Regions from separate parts of the Homo sapiens genome. Here all the other regions are linked to region 1. The links come from fine-mapping of genetic effects on gene expression. A gene starts in region 1. Each other region holds a variant in brackets. All regions are shown on one strand. Distances are between the middles of the regions.

The links. PIP is the estimated chance that this variant, and not a neighbour inherited with it, causes the effect.
Region 2: its variant is fine-mapped to the expression of PFAS in whole blood (INTERVAL, PIP 0.97).
Region 3: its variant is fine-mapped to the expression of PFAS in monocytes (BLUEPRINT, PIP 0.95).

The regions. Positions count from the first base shown.
Region 1 is chr17:8,247,966-8,250,724 of GRCh38, reverse strand. PFAS (phosphoribosylformylglycinamidine synthase) reads right to left here and starts at 1,436. Exons shown (of 28, transcript NM_012393.3): 1 at 1,386-1,436. It overlaps CTC1 (CST telomere replication complex component 1), which reads left to right and starts at 2,669. Exons shown (of 23, transcript NM_025099.6): 1 at 2,669-2,721. The coding sequence starts at 2,689. RefSeq lists enhancers at 1,252-2,008, 2,133-2,252, 2,733-2,759 and a silencer at 2,593-2,642.
Region 2 is chr17:8,269,317-8,272,075 of GRCh38, reverse strand. PFAS (phosphoribosylformylglycinamidine synthase) reads right to left here. Exons shown (of 28, transcript NM_012393.3): 28 at 1,590-2,759. Among named protein-coding and RNA genes, the nearest start is that of RANGRF, 18 kb to the left of the region's middle. The variant G/A (reference allele first, on the strand shown) is at 1,627.
Region 3 is chr17:8,756,898-8,759,656 of GRCh38, reverse strand. It overlaps SPDYE4 (speedy/RINGO cell cycle regulator family member E4), which reads left to right and starts at 1,111. Exons shown (of 7, transcript NM_001394956.1): 1 at 1,111-1,383; 2 at 2,165-2,395. The coding sequence starts at 1,275. The variant C/T (reference allele first, on the strand shown) is at 1,552.

The sequences.
Region 1 (2,759 bases):
GTATTGACCTCCAGTGTGCATCAGGCAACAGAACTATTACAGTTAATACTTTTAGCCTAACATTCAAAGGCCCTCCCCATCTATCCCAAACTACCTATCCAATTTCTGGTCCCACTGCCTCTCAGCGGGACCCTGGCTTTACTCACCAAACTCTGCTGTTCCCCTAGTCTTGCCACTCAGTAAACACTACCATCATCCAATTTGTTGCTCAAGACAAAAACACAGAAGTCATCCTTAATTCTCTTTCCCTCAGACTCTCTAAATCCAATCCACCAGGAAATCTATTTCCAATCATGTCTCAAATCTCTCATCTCTTCATCTCTACTACCTCACTCTAGTTCAAGTAAGCCACCACCATCACTCACCTGGACCAATGCATTAACCTCCTGACCACTGCATAACCACAATTCATTTGTCACACATCAGCATAAAGTGGATTATGGCTTCCCATTACACATGGTATAAATTCCAACTCAGCATCCTGGTTTACCAAGTCTGGCCACTCTCTGGCCTACCTTTCCAACCCTATCTCACACCATTCTCTTTTTCACCCACAATGCACCAACCACACATTAGCTTCTTTTTTATTTCTCTAACTTGCCAAGCTCAGTCCTGGAAGGCATTTTTTTCACCCTGACATATGCATGGCTAGCTCTTGTTATTTAGATTTCTGGTGATTCGCCTTCGTGGAAAAGGCTTCACTAGCCACTCAAGTAGTTACTATCAGATGGCCGGCCCTATTTTAATTTCCTGTAAAGCGCTTATCACTATTGGATGTTTTTATTTTTCGCTCTATATTCCCCACTAGAAAAAAAATCTCTACGTGGGCATGGGATGTTGCTGCTTCGTTTCCATTGAATTACCAAGGCTTAGAACAATACCAGGGCTTGAAACGCAAAAAAATTCTAAAACTTGTGGAATGACTTAATGAACTCTTGATTCTCACCACTCTTCAGCCCCTCCCCAACTTTCAGGACAGTCTTCCTGAAGGCATTTTGTTTATTAAGCCACTTGATTTCCGTCTATCATTCCCAGTAAAATATAAGCTTCAAGAGCTCAGAGACAGGGTTTGCGTGCATGAGGGCTGTATTCCATGACCAGCATGGTGCCTGATATAAAGTAGGCGGCCGGCAGTCTTTCTGTTAGCTGAATCCATGAATGGGACAATGGGGCTAAATTTACATGGGGGTCGGCCATGCCTGGGGTCTGCGGAACGCACGCAAGATAGGACGAATGGACGCCTCCACTAAAGCAAATACGCGGGCACCAAGTAGACACAGCTCGGCCCGGTGGGGATACTGAAGCCGCCAGACCAAGCTTGGGCTAGATGACGAAACGCTGCACCTGGAGGAGGATCCAGGTCCGCACGCGGTAACTATACTCACGTGGAAGATGCACTCGCGGCCACAGAGCACCTCGAATCGTCGCGCGCGTTTGTTACGTCATCCGCGTGCGCCGCGGGCAGAGACTGGACCTGCCAGCGCCGGGGCGACTACGCCCCGCCCACTTTTCCCCAGCCACCCGGCCGAATTCTAGGTTCTTGGTGGGGAGAGGTTTATCCCCAGGTGGTTTCTCCCACAAATCTGTCTTGAACTGACGTTTGTGAAAATACATTCAGTTCCCCGTCCCCGCGGGGACAGTTAAGTAATGACATCAGTTAGTTAAGGCCATAAAGCAAGCATGTGAAAGTTGTGCTTTGGTGGCATTACGAGGAAGCCCTTCTCTGCTTGGCAAGATCAGGGAGACTGAAAGATGCTTAGAAGTCATCCACCAGGCGGGCTGTGTTTGAGTTCCTGAGCTCTGCTACCCCATCCATCTGAAGGCCTGCGGGATGCCGGACAGGATGTCACTTAGGAGGGAGACGGAGGCTGGGCGCGGTGGCTCCCGCCTGTAATCCGAGCACTTTGGGAGCCCGAGGCGGGCAGATCGCTTGAGCCCAGGAGTTCGAGACCAGTCTGGGCAACATGGCGAAACCATGTCGCTACAGAAAAATACAAAAATTAGCCGGGTGTGGCGGTGCAAGCCTGCGATCCCAGCTACTTGGTGGGCTGAGGTGGGAGGATCGCTTGAGCCCGGGAGGTCGAGGCTGCAGTGAACCGAGATGGCGCCGCTGCACTCCAGCCTGGGCGATAGAGCGAGACCTCGTCTCAAAAAAATCAGAGAGGGCCAGGGGCTGTGTTTCACGCCTGTAATCCCAGCACTTTGGGAGGCTGAGGCGGGTGGATCACCTGAGGTCAGGAGTTTGAGACCAGCCTGGCCACATGGTGAAACCCCGTCTCTACTAAAAATACAAAAAAAAAAAAAAAAAAAAAAATTAGCCGGGCGTGGTGGTGGCAGGTGCCTGTAATCCTAGCTACTCAGGAGGCTGAGGCCGGAAAATCCCTTGAACCTGGGAGGCGGGGGTTGCAGTGAGCCGAGATCGCGCCACTGCACTCCAGCCTGGGCGACAGAACCAGGCTTCGTCTTAAAAAAAAAAAAATCAGAGAAAAGAGACAGGGGTGTCGGGAGTTGGGATGGTGCACCGAGGCGCCTCGCGGAGTCTCTAGGAAGCGAGGGGGTGAGCAGCGAGAAGGAGCTGGAGGTGGCGAGGAAACCCGCTCACCGGTGACGTCACCGAGCGCCCCCCCACCCCCATCCCCACCCCCAAGCGAGCACCTGCCCCTCCCGGGGGCGGAGCTCCGGCGCATCATGGCGGCTGGCCGGGCCCAGGTCCCTTCCTCCGTGAGTGCTGCTATTACGTCTCTTGTTCCTTTTTTCTT
Region 2 (2,759 bases), 21 kb before region 1:
AGCCAAGATGGTCTCGATCTCCTGACCTCATGATCTGCCCACCTCGGCCTCCCAAAGTGCTGGGATTACAGGTGTGAGCCACCACGCCCGGCCCTGGAACATTCTATTTCTTTCTTTCTTTTTCTTTTTTTTTTTTTTTTTGGGACAGACTCTGTTGCCCAGGCTGAAGTGCAGTGGCGTGATCTCGGCTCACTGCAACCTCCGCCTCCTGGGTTCAAGCGATTCTTCTGCCTCAGCCTCCCGAGAAGCTGGGATTATTGGCACACACCACCACACCCAGCTAATTTTTGTATTTTTAGTAGAGACGGGGTTCACCATGTTGGCCAGGCTGGTCTCAAACTCAGGTGATCTACCAGCCTTGGCCTCCCAAAGTGTTGGAATTACAGGCATGAGCCACCGCACCTGGCAGGAACATTGTATTTCTAGAGAGGAATCAACTATTGAAGAATTGGCACCTTCTCCCAAAGGAAGCGCTGGGGAAGTCAGTAGAACACAAAGAACTGGATGAAAGGGATGTAGTAGAATGGCATGAGCCTGCAACGGGCAGGGTTTTCTTTGAACTGGGTGAACAGTCTGGCAGTGGTACGAGGACCCCGACTCCCCAGCCTGGGGAAGATGAGATATGTGAGGTTGAGGTTTGAGAAGAAAAGCCACCACTTGGAGGGGCTGCAGAAGTGGCTCTCAGAGGATAGCTGGTTTTCCATGAAGGCAAGGAGGGAGCAGAGAGCTAGCCTGGAAGGTTCACCAGAGGGCCCTTGGGAGTGGGTGAGTGGGAATGGAGCTGGGTGGGGGTCAGCAAGGACAGGGTTATTTGGTTACTGGATGAAAACACGGATGAAAAGCCAGTGGACTTGGTCTTGATAGTGTCTGAGGAGGGTGGGTCTTACTTGGCCACTGCGACCCAAACCAGAAACTGCTCCCCCTTCAAAATCCACGAGTTTACTTATCACAGCCAACCAGGTTACCTCCCATGCCATCCTTTGACTTTTGCATCAAGCACTTAATAAACTTAATATCTAACCCTTGGTACCAGCCCCCAAATTGTATGTTCGATACTATAAATTTGAAAGACATACATATATCCTTTCCAAGGGTCAGGAAAGAACATTCAAATGTCAAAAATGATCCGGAGGAGTCCCATACTGCTCAGGGTAGGTCGCTTTGCAAAGCAATGAGAAAAATCTCTGAAATAGTTGTTTTCCCCATAGCCATCATTTAACATTGTTTCATTATTATCAGTTTTTTCTCAGGGTGGCTACTCTACCAGGAGCACACAGAAGTGCTCAGCGCCCCCACCCAGCTCTCCTAGCCCTCAGGGATCTGGGATTATAGTCTCCATTCTCAGGCAAACTCCTTTTATCAAGATGTTGAACATTCTAGGGAGCCAACTGACTTGAGGTGTACAACAGAACAGTCATGAGGAAGGGACCTCTATCCACAGTCCTGTGAGCAAAGGAAGCAACAGACAGCTGCCAGCACAAAGTCTCAACACACTGCCTCCAGGAAGTAAGACTGCAGGATGGCGGGAAGCAGATGTAGTATGGGTGCGCCCAGCCCCCCTCACCATCTGTGGACCCCAGGCAATGCAGTCAACCTTCATTCATCCTTTATTGAAAAGGCGGGGAG[G/A]GGCTATCAAGTCCTTTGCTGAATTTTAGTGAGAATTAATTCAGATACATACCAAATGCCTCACACATGCGTGGCTTGAGCTAAGTGTTATACACAGCTATTATTTTTAATTCTATTACACATAAACTCCCTGAGGCCGGTGACAGTGCTTTGCAATAATAACTAATCAACAACAGTCAATGCAGTAAGTGAAGAGTAGAATTCCAGCATACTAAAGGGTTAGGATCTAGGGATGAGAGCCCCAACCACCTCTATCAGAAACAGAGCTGCTGGGCCAGCTGTAGTGGCTCCCACCTGTAATCCCAGCACTTTGGGAGGCCGAGGCAGGCGAATCACTTGAGGTTAGGAGTTTGAGACCAGCCTGGGAGACATGGTGAAACCCTATCTCTACTAAAAATACAAAAATTAGCTGGGTGTGGTGGTGTGTGCCTGTACTCCCAGCTACTCGGGAGGCTGAGGCAGGAAAATTGCTTGAACCCAGGAGGCAGAGGTTGCAGTGGGCCGAGATCACGCCATTGTACTCCAGCCTGGGTGACAGAGTGAGACTGCCTCAAAAAAAAAAAAAAAAAGAGAGCTGCTAATTTAGAAGCAAATAACAGGAATGCTGGGTTCTGAGGCCAGCCCTAAGACAGCCAGAAACGCTGAGAAACTTCCACAAGCAACAATTCCTTACATTCAGTGCAGTGTAGCACTTCAAGAGAAATCCAGAAAGTTTCAGTTCCAGATGAGAACAATGAGGTGGTGAGGGGCTGATCTGCATACTATTGCTGAATTTGTCTGCACCCGCTAACCCCAATGATGAGAAAAGGGAGCGCAAAACATCCCTCAGAGCCAAGGAGGCAATTGCACACCGGTGATCACTGGGTGTTGTGAAGTGGGCAACAGAAGCCCCTGTTCGGACCTCAGGAGTCCTAACTTTTCCTTGTCGCTCTTTTCTCTGAACCACATGCTGTTTCCTGGGCTGAGAAAGGGCATGCCATGTTAGAGCAGAACTGAAAATAGACACAGCCACAGAAGGAACATCAGCAGGCAGATTATCGAGTCCGCTGAGATTTTGGCATTTTGGTCCTTGTCTGTCCAAGATATTTTTGGAAATAATATGGGGTGCTCCTGAAGGTCATGGGGGAGGGGGC
Region 3 (2,759 bases), 510 kb before region 1:
CATTTTTATTTTTTCCGAAAAAAATATTTTTGAGACTGAGTCTCACTCTGTCCTCCAGGCTGGTGTGCAGTGGTGCAATCATAGCTCACTGCAGCCTCAAACACTTGGGCTGAAGCAATCCTCCTGCCTCAGCCTCCCAAGTACTGGGACCACAGGTGTGTGCCACGATTCCTGATTACTTTGTTTATATTTTGTAGAGATGACGTTTTGCTATGTTGCCCAGACTAATCTTGAACTCCTAACCTCAAGTGACGCCCTGCCTTGGCCTCCCAAAGGAGGGAGATTATGAGCAGGAGCCCCTGGGCCTGGCTGAGATTTTCCCCTTAGTCTTTTTATACACAGGATATTTTATTCATAAAATACATAAATAGTAGGCAAATTTTGGGGTCAAGTGAAATAGATATGTTGTAATAGTTGATATATAGACCAGAGTTCCTTAGCTGAACTGGAGGGCAGGCTTTAGGTGATCCATGGATGCCCTGAACTTGTGGACACCATTGAAAATCTGTACGAAACCATGGACAGTCTCCTGTGATTTTCATTCCTCAAAATGTCTCTTGGACTCAAAGATGCCTGAGAGCAAAGGATGCATGTTCCCCTACTATAGGATCCAGGATAGTGAATATCAGTAAACATTCAGCAAAAAAGCTTTGCCACATTGAGTACTTCGACGTAACGTCTCCATTCAACAAGTCAATTTACCCAGGATCTCCTGTATATGTTAATCTCACTCTTGGAAGGACTCATCATTCTGCTTACCCTAAATTTCCTTCCACCTTCCTCCCTCTCTCACCAGACTAGACTCTGAAATGGGAAGGAGAAGCGGGGAGGAGAGCCCAACACCCCCTCAAGTTTAGAGTGGAGAGGACACAGCCTCTGCTGGGACAGGGAAAAGAGGAATGTGGAGACCCTGAGGATGCTTTTGGACAATGCTCAGAGGTTGGGACATTGCCAGGAGATACCGTTCACCCCGGATCTCCAAGAAAAGAGATCAGTCTGGCAGTTACATGTGTTTTTCTTCAAAGTAGTTGCCAGTTTGGAATGACCGATGACATCAGAGATTCCGACTTTCCTGATTGGAAGGACCGGACTCTGGTTGCTTGGGAGTTCAGGTGGACAACAGCAACTTCTCAGAACTACTCTTCACTCCTAACTTCTCCCGAGCCTCTAGAAGAGAAACGCACTCTTCTGGGTCCTAACGGAGTCTGGAAGAAGGCTTTGGACAGAACAGGGACTAGGTTTTGTGGACAGAAACAAAGTGTTTGGGAGAGATTATGGCCAGTGGTCAAGCGCGCCCCCCGTTTGAGGAGGAGAGCCCCCAGCCTAGCACAACGGTACGGTCCCCCGAGGTGGTGGTGGATGATGAAGTGCCAGGACCATCAGGTGAGGTGACTGGAGGGAGAAGCGATGGGAGATGATTGACTGAGGAGAGGGAAGGGGGCCAGTTACTGGGAATCTGAAGCACCTGAGTAGGGTGTGTGGGAAAGAAACGACGGACTCAGGAAGCCAGGGATCGGGGAAGGAGGGTGCAGGGAATGGGGCCAAGCATGG[C/T]CACGTGTAAAGAAAGTCTGGGGAGCAATGAAGGGGGTCAGGAGATGTGCTCAAAAGATGAGAGAGGAAGGCCGAGGCGGACGGATCACGAGGTCAGAAGATCGAGACCATCCTGGTTAACACGATGAAACCCTGTCTCTACCAAAAATACAAAAGTGAGTTGGGCATGGTGGTGCGTGCCTGTAGTCCCAGCTACTCAAGAGGCTGAGGCAGGAGAATCATTTGAACCCAGGAGGCGGAGGTTGCAGTGAACCAAGATTGTGCCACTGCACTCCGGTCTGGGCAACAAGAGGGAGACTCCATCTCAAAAAAAAAAAAAAGAGAGAGAGAGAGAGAGAGCAGACAGAGCTCAAGGGAAGGTTTCCATTTTTCTCCAATTGAAAGTTCTTATCTGTGATGAGGAAATGTTTTGAGGACAGAGAGCCGGAAGAATGGGGAGGTGAGGGAGAGGCAGATGGGGATCAGCAAAGGAGAAAGGTGGAAACATGGCTTGGAGAAGCTGACAGTCTGCGAGGCTTGGGAGGATGGAAGAGTAGTTTGAGGTTCCTGGGTCGGGGCGTCTAAGGTGATCAATGGCAGAAACATGACACCATGGCCTGGTTTCTTCACTCAGCCCCTTGGATAGATCCCAGCCCCCAGCCTCAATCCCTTGGCCTGAAAAGGAAGAGCGAATGGTCAGACGAATCCGAGGAGGAGCTGGAGGAGGAGCTGGAGTTGGAGCGCGCCCCTGAGCCCGAGGACACCTGGGTGGTGGAGACGCTGTGTGGGCTCAAGATGAAGCTGAAGCGAAAGCGAGCATCCTCCGTGCTCCCTGAGCACCACGAGGCCTTCAACAGGCTCCTTGGTAGGAGGATACCCCAAAAAGCACCTCCAACCCTGTTCTTTTAAAAAAGTGGAATCTTTCAATAATCACACTTTCCCAATAAGAAGAATATGCCCTCCTGGGGGATGAGCGCTCCATGCAGGAGGAGGATGCTTAGGAGATAGAGGATTAGGCTAGTCTTAATAAAGGTCTGCACTTGAAATAAGAAAGCTTGGTTTCTGGCCAGGTGCAGTGGCTCATGCCTGAGATCTTGGTGCTTTGGGAGGCTGAGGCGGGAGGATCTCTTGAACTCAGGAGTTTGAAGTTGCAATGAGCTATGATTGCACCACTGCACTCCAGCCTGGTTGACAAGGAAAGACCCTGTCATAAAATAAATAAAATAAAA